Linked DNA regions of Homo sapiens. The protein of the gene in region 1 purifies or fractionates together with the protein of each later gene. This does not show direct contact. Each region holds a gene or a part of one and is shown on either strand. Other genes may lie near its edges.

The links.
Region 2: the proteins of LRIG3 (region 1) and LRRC32 purify together in Homo sapiens (co-immunoprecipitation; one large-scale study listed by IntAct). This does not show direct contact.

The regions. Positions count from the first base shown.
Region 1 is NC_000012.12:58,871,440-58,875,605, reverse strand, and holds the end of LRIG3 (leucine-rich repeats and immunoglobulin-like domains protein 3 isoform 2 precursor), read left to right. Parts: intron 1-1,032; coding exon 1,033-1,176; intron 1,177-1,275; coding exon 1,276-1,551; intron 1,552-2,789; coding exon 2,790-3,034; 3' UTR 3,035-3,451; downstream 3,452-4,166. UniProt on the Homo sapiens protein: May play a role in craniofacial and inner ear morphogenesis during embryonic development. May act within the otic vesicle epithelium to control formation of the lateral semicircular canal in the inner ear, possibly by restricting the expression of NTN1.
Region 2 is NC_000011.10:76,660,570-76,664,385, forward strand, and holds part of LRRC32 (transforming growth factor beta activator LRRC32 isoform a precursor), read right to left. Parts: intron 3,298-3,816; exon of another isoform or gene 2,060-3,297; intron 940-2,059; coding exon 1-939.

The DNA.
Region 1 (4,166 bases):
TACTTGTGCAAATGAAATGAAGATGGAAAACTACATGGCGCTAGGCACATATTAAGGGCTCAGCAAGTGGAAGCCATCGATGTTATTCTAAAATATATGACCAACTTTTCCCATAAGTATTTATTATACGCTCTGTGCCAGACATTGTAGTTGGGAGAGAAGTATATGTTTTCAATTTCACAGTTTCGTCAGAGGTGGATAAACTAAAAGTGCTTGGCAAGCCAGAAATAAAGAGCGTAGAGTTACAGGATCTGAGCATAGAAGTGAGTATTCTGGTTAGACCCGTTTAGAGGCAGAGTGGAGACCCAAGCTCATTAAAGCATAATGGGGTTAACTGAAAAGACACTTAAGGAAAACCTAAAGGGACAGAACTGGGGCATAATAATGCCAGGCTGCCTAGATGCTGAGGCTGGAGATGAGGCTGCTCCCAGAGTAGCTCTGGGCCACCAGCATTACTGTGTCACGTTCTGCATATTTGCTTTTCTCTCAGCCCACCACCTCTTGCTGCCCAGTTTCTGCTTCCCAGACACATGCGTCATCGTGACATCTCTAACCCTGATGATATCATTTACTCTTCACCTGCTGTGTCCAGCAGTAAATGGCGTATATTTCTGTGTTGTTTGGTTCAGATACTCATGAGATGATATGTTTAGCTGAGCTTATCTTTGAGATGGGCATTAAGAGGTCATTGGCCAAGTGCCAATCCTGGTTCTGGTCATCTGGGACCTTTTGTAAGAAGGGGACAGTGCTGATGGTATGTGGTTTAGACCATGGCTGCTTTGGCTGCAGGATCTGCACATATCAGTTTCCCGTAGAAACCAAGTGAGCAATAAGGCCACCACACCTAGCACAATGGCTAATTAAGTCCTCTAATAAATTTTTTAAAACCCTACTGTAAATTTTTGCAATTTTTTTGTCTATATGATGTTCTAGTCAAACTTTCATCTATAAATATGGAAGATGCCAAAACTGGGGAGAATGTTGAATGGCACTTGAATAATTGGATCATTGACTAAGATTTTTGTTTCAAAGGGACCTGCCATATTGACAATAGCAGTGAAGCTGATGTGGAAGCTGCCACAGATCTGTTCCTTTGTCCGTTTTTGGGATCCACAGGCCCTATGTATTTGAAGGGAAATGTGTATGGCTCAGATCCTTTTGAAACATATCATACAGGTAGGTGGTTTTCTTGCTTGAGTACAGTTCTGTTTCTTAGAGAGACTTCTAGATGTGCTAACTGTAATCTCCTTCTGTTACTGCCCCCATATTAAAAAGGTTGCAGTCCTGACCCAAGAACAGTTTTAATGGACCACTATGAGCCCAGTTACATAAAGAAAAAGGAGTGCTACCCATGTTCTCATCCTTCAGAAGAATCCTGCGAACGGAGCTTCAGTAATATATCGTGGCCTTCACATGTGAGGAAGCTACTTAACACTAGTTACTCTCACAATGAAGGACCTGGAATGAAAAATCTGTGTCTAAACAAGTCCTCTTTAGATTTTAGTGCAAATCCAGAGCCAGCGTCGGTTGCCTCGAGTAATTCTTTCATGGGTAAGTTTATTAAGTTATCAGGTACCTCGTCTGAGGATCCATACTCCAAGTTGTGTGTGAGAGAGCAATGACAGCCTTGAATGTCAAACTGGTAAAAAATGGTTTCTTGAATGAGGCTGCCATGACATCCGACTAGTTAGTGTAAATGCCTCCAAAAGCAAAGTCAGAGGTGGGATTTTACTTGATGATGTGTTTAATCTATAACTAAGCCTCAGGAGCTTTCTGGGTAGCACTGTGTGTGGCATCTACTCCAAGACAAGGGTTTGGGGAGGACTTAGGAGCTCAGCTTGTCAGCCATGTGGAAAAAGTGGTTTTGGGCTCCCACGGCCTTTGGGGTGGAGTTGTGTGCTCTGCATGATTGTGGTTTGGTATGTCTGGTGGCTTCCAACTGAACCCGCAGTCGAAGGGTGGAAAACAACATCCTACCTAGCAACAACTGCTAGTCTGACAAGCTGGACTACCTTTGGCCAAGAAAACCAGCCTTAAGGTCCAAGTCGGTGGTGTTAGATGCTGGCTGGCACTGAGATTAGGTAGTGAATTTTTTCGTCTGATGCATGGGGATAATAGGATGGAAGAGCTGAGGTCATCTTTTCACTGAACAGAGAGATGGAAAAATCAGCCACAACTTGCCATGTTGACAATAAAATTTAAAAAAGGAGAATTTTCAAATATTTTACCCAACTTCTACGAAATGTTATGTTTTATCACAGTGTAATTATTTATATTCCTTTTTTGGAAAAAATTAAAATAATATGCTTTGTATAACTGAGGCAAGAATTTGATTCAATTGAGTAATATTTGGCTACAATTAATGAAGAAAGGGCAGGACACAGGTTTATTTTGAAAGAAAATTTCTTTATTTAGCCTCAGTTAACTTGGATGTTACCATCCAACACACCCGTCACCAAAATTGGGCTCTCAGCTAGGATGTGGGGAAACTTATATTGGGGAACTTTATTGCATGACCATTAACATTACTACAGGTCATGAGAAATGATAAAGAATAGATGCATTTGTTCAGTGGATGTAAATATGAGGGAAGGCAAATGTCTTTTGCTCCATTCTAGAAGTGATCTGGCTGTAAGACAGATGTACATGTATGTGAGTGCCATAATGTGGACTTGTAGAAAACACTTACTCATATTCATGGGGTAAGATGTTCCTTCATTTGCAATGGGTTTTATTGATTCACATGCTAGCAAAGGGACCCATGTGCTCAAGGTGTTTCTTTCTTTCAGGTACCTTTGGAAAAGCTCTCAGGAGACCTCACCTAGATGCCTATTCAAGCTTTGGACAGCCATCAGATTGTCAGCCAAGAGCCTTTTATTTGAAAGCTCATTCTTCCCCAGACTTGGACTCTGGGTCAGAGGAAGATGGGAAAGAAAGGACAGATTTTCAGGAAGAAAATCACATTTGTACCTTTAAACAGACTTTAGAAAACTACAGGACTCCAAATTTTCAGTCTTATGACTTGGACACATAGACTGAATGAGACCAAAGGAAAAGCTTAACATACTACCTCAAGTGAACTTTTATTTAAAAGAGAGAGAATCTTATGTTTTTTAAATGGAGTTATGAATTTTAAAAGGATAAAAATGCTTTATTTATACAGATGAACCAAAATTACAAAAAGTTATGAAAATTTTTATACTGGGAATGATGCTCATATAAGAATACCTTTTTAAACTATTTTTTAACTTTGTTTTATGCAAAAAAGTATCTTACGTAAATTAATGATATAAATCATGATTATTTTATGTATTTTTATAATGCCAGATTTCTTTTTATGGAAAATGAGTTACTAAAGCATTTTAAATAATACCTGCCTTGTACCATTTTTTAAATAGAAGTTACTTCATTATATTTTGCACATTATATTTAATAAAATGTGTCAATTTGATGCCAAGCCCCATTTATACAATAACAATTTTTATTATTTTTAGCACAATTTAGGCTTAATTAGTTCACATTATCATGTCTCAAACGGATGGGAATTATATTTAGCCCATTAAAGTATGAACAAAAATGACCGTTTTTTCTACCTCCCAGGATTGTTGTAATACAGATTGAAATCAGATTGTGCATATGAAAGCACAATTGTAAACGAGAAGGAGCTACAGAGATTTAAGGTACATTATTTCTAAATCTACGAACAAAAAAAGATTTGTTGTTATAATCTGGTGTAATATAGTACAACTACCATAAATCACTGCTCAATTCATGTTTCTTTAATTATAATAATGGTTTACGTGGTCTAATGCCTTATGCTTATCCAAGTAGTTTCACTTTTGCCGTCCCTTTTCTTACAGCAAGCGAGTGGTTTATTGCATATGTCTATAGCTAAAATGGCTCTAGCAGAAGTGGACTTTCATGCACTGTTCCAGGTTGTAATGAGATGCTGCTAGAATTGTTTTCTGTTTTTATTGATTTTCTGCTGGAAGAGCAGTTTGTATATAAATGGTACTTCTAAGCTATTTTTGAACAATTACCAAAATATTTTCTTTGATCATCAAGGTTTGGTTAAAAACTAAGTATAAAATATCTTACTTAAGCACATAAAACTAAAACATTTGTTTTAAAACAGTATTCATTGAAAAATGTAATTACATGGCAGG
Region 2 (3,816 bases), on another chromosome or scaffold:
CAGGGAGGTCAGGTGCTCAAGAAAGCTGTCGGGGATGAGCTCAATCTCATTGTAGCTCAAATCCAGATTCAAGAGCTGGGAAAGGGGGCGGCCGCTGGCATTCCCGCTGGGGGCTGAGAGGGGCAGGGCTGACCAGCCCTCGGAAGGTGCGTGGATGCCCTTGCTGTCCTGGGGTGGCCCTGTGGGGAGCCGGATGAGGTTGTTGGACAAGTTCAGGTAGATGAGTCTCGGGAGCGCGGCCAGGTCGGGGAAATGGAGCAGTTTGTTCTCCCGCAGGTCAAGCCAGGTGAGCTGGAACTCAGCCTGGGGCTGGGAGGCCGTCTGAAAGGCCTCGATGCTGTTGCAGCTCAGGTCTAGCACCCGCAGCTGCTGGAGGCTGAAGTCGGAGATGCAGGTGAGGGAATTCCTGGAGAGGTTGAGATGGGTCAGGCGGGGCAGACCCTCGAAGGCGCCATCCTCGATGTCCATCAGCACGTTGCTATGCAGGTCAAGCTGCTCCAGCGCAGGCATGTCCCGGAAGGTGTGGCGGGTGAGGCGAGTCAGACTGTTCTCCGCCAGTGAGAGGGTATGCAGGCTGGGTGCCTCCCCCAGCAGCCGCTCCAGCAGGCCGCTGTACAGGCTGTTCCCAGACAGGTCCAGGGAGGTCACGCGTGGCAGGGGGCCCAGGCCACCAGCACTCAGCGCAGTGGCCATCGCCAGCCGGTTGTGAGCCAGGCTGAGGTGCTCCAGGTGGGTCAGGGCCTGGAAGGCTCCTGGCTGGAGGAAGCTGATCTCATTGGTGCTCAGGTCCAGGTGACGAAGTGCTGTGTAGAAGCCCAGGGGTGAGGCCAGGATACTCCGCAGCTGGTTCCCAGATAGATCAAGGGTCTCAGTGTCTGGCGGGAGCACCGAGGGGACCTGGAGCAGGCCCAGAACCTGGCACGAGACCTTCTTGTCCACCTGGGGAGGGGTAGGGTGGGGAGACAGCTGGCATAAGTGGGCACGGTAGGGGATGAAACCAGACATGTTTATCCAGGAACCCTGCCTGGCTGGGGAACCCTTCTCCCATGGACTCCCAGAATGCTCAACTTTCCCCCACCGCAGCCTGATCACCCCATGCCTGGATGACCCATCCGGCTCCCTGCCCCATCTCGGGCACCCAGCGCAGTAATGGGCATTAAGGAAGGAACTCGATGAAGGTTCCATGGGTGGACAGATGGAGAGATGATAGACAGATAGAAGGACAAATAAACTAACAAAGAGAAACCCTGTACTTATTATTACCCCTCTTACAGGAAACAGCCATATATCCCACAGAGTGACCCCAAGCCAGTGAGCAGCAGGGCAGAGCTGGGACCCAGGGCTCCTGATTCTATGTCCTAGGTCCCTTCTATGGGCACAGATAGTTAAATTTCTGGTGGTAGATGGGAATTTCTCCACTTTGGGAGAAATGTTTCCAAAAGGGAAAACTGTAATTTGTGCTCTGTCATCAGTTTTTATCTTGGCCTCCCTGCCTCAGACCTCATTCAGGCTCTCGTGTCATGGGCAGAGCCTGGGTCCTGGGGCCTGCCTTCCTTGTGGATGCTTCCGAGATGTGGCTTCCTCTCTGTTGCTGTTACCTCCTAGGAGGTGGCTTTCTTCCCAGGCTGGGTCAGGGGACCGGGCCCCTGGAGGTGGGAAGGGCCAGGGAAAAGATGGCCAGAGCCAAATCCACAGTCTTTGGTGATGAGACTGTGTTTGTGCTGTGCGACCTCCAGGAAGTCACATAACCACTCTGTTTTCTTACGTTCTTCCCCAGCAGCCACTCAGCATTTGACATCTTGGTTAATACTTTCAGGCCCATGGTCCCATTGGTCTTTACCACAGCCTGCCCATCTGATACGATCACCCCTATTTACAGAAATCTAGGCTCAGGGAGGGGAAGGGAGGTGCCAGGATTGCCCAGCTGGTGAGGAGCAGAGCTGGGATTTGAACCCAGGTTTTTTAACAACAAAAGGCCGAACTCTTGTTCTTCCACAGATGTGCCTTCTGGGACCAAAATTCTTCCTGTGCAAATGCAGGTCTCCCTCTTCTCTTCCAGGCCTCCAGGAACCCCAGCCTTTCCCAGAAAAAGGTCTGACTTCCACAATCACCGGGCTCAGGCTCACCGCCCCCAGCTTCTGTCTCCGCCAACCCGTTCTGACCCACTCACTGCTAAATGCCTGACAACTGCTCAAAAGCTCTACTCTGACAATGAGGCAGCTTGGCTTAAACTTCTCCACGGTGAAGTCCAGGATCCCCAGCAGGGCCTTCGAGGCTGTTTGTAGCCCCTGCCAACCTGTCCCCCACCTCCCACCCCAGCCCACATGCAGTGACCACAGCTGACCACTGCCCATCATGCGCTCCCACACCCACTGCTGGGGCCTGCTCCCTGAGCTGGTTATGCCATCCCCAACCAGATCCACACATGAACTCTTCACACTGAGCTTCAGGGCCTCCTCCACCAGGGAGCCCTCCCTGACTGTGCTTCCTCTCAGAGCTTTGCCCCGCTGAATTGTGGCTGTGTGTGTGAGGACCTGCTAGACAGCGAGCTCAGAGCAAACAGGGACTGGTTTGGTGGATGTGCATGCCTTGGACCTGACTAGCAAGTCAATTTTTCCTAATGAATGAGTCCCAGACATCATCAGTTTAGTAAAGGTCTGAGGCACTGAATCAATCACTTCTCTAGGAGGAAAGAAAATGCATAATTGATATTTTCAAAATATAGTCAAAGACGGGTAGAGCAAGAAGAGTTCAGCTGACCCACTTCCCAGATGTGAACACTGAGGCCTGAAGATGGCAGTGACTTGCGTGAATTCACAGTGAGCCAGTGGCTGAGCTGGTAGGGAGGGAACACAAGCCGGTGTGTTCCTCCCCTGGTCCAGCTCTGCGCTTCCTCCTGAGAGCCCCAAGGTGAGTAGGGGGAGGAAGAGACCTGCCCAGCCTCAGGCCTCCGTGTGGCTCTTCTTACTCCATGCAGCACAGTGACTCCATGTAGCCTCCAAGGGAGGCAGCTTCACAGGGGCCTCAGGAGGCCCAGGGATGCCCCGTCAGTTGGGCACCTGTGTGAACCTGAAACCTGCCCAGCTGCCTTGCCCATCCTTGCCCTTCCTCCCTCACAACCTCTCTGTCTGCAGGGGCCACTAAACATAGCCTCCTCCTCACAGCCCTTACCCCCTGGGGCATTCCTTACTTAAAGCAGAAACAACAAAATGACCTGTGATGGAGCCCCAGCTGTGTCAGGCTGCGTGCTGAGTGCAGAGACCCCCTACCCCATTAAATCTTCCCAGGCATTGTTCACCCTGTTCCTATTGTACCCCTAACGAAACTGAGGCTAAGGGGAGTGGGCTGCCCAAGATCAGACAGTCAGGGGCTCAAAACTCCCATTTGCAAATTCCTTTTCCTATTGGTGCCAGCCAAGTTCTGACCACTGGGCCCTCAGCTGGTCAGCACAGCAAAGAGCATCATGGACCCACTTACTGACTGTTACAGTGTGGGGGGCACCGTGCTGTGCCCCGCGTGTTACCCCCGGGCAAGTGCAGAGGCATACTGCCTCTGGATAGGCAAAGGCTCCCTGGGGCACCAGCCCCTGAGACTTGATCCAGGACACAAAGTTTGCCAAGCCCACAGCCCAAGACTGGCTTTCCATTCAGGGGCCCAAGACCCCTGCTCTAGAAGCCTGGGGGCCTGATGGTGGGCAGGGCTGCACTGGGATGCCCAGATCTCCAGTCCAGTCCAGGAAGAAGCTTGAAGTCCAGGGCGGTGCTCAGAGCTCCACTTCCAGGGTCTTCATGCCTCCTTCAGCTCTGAGCTCCCAGC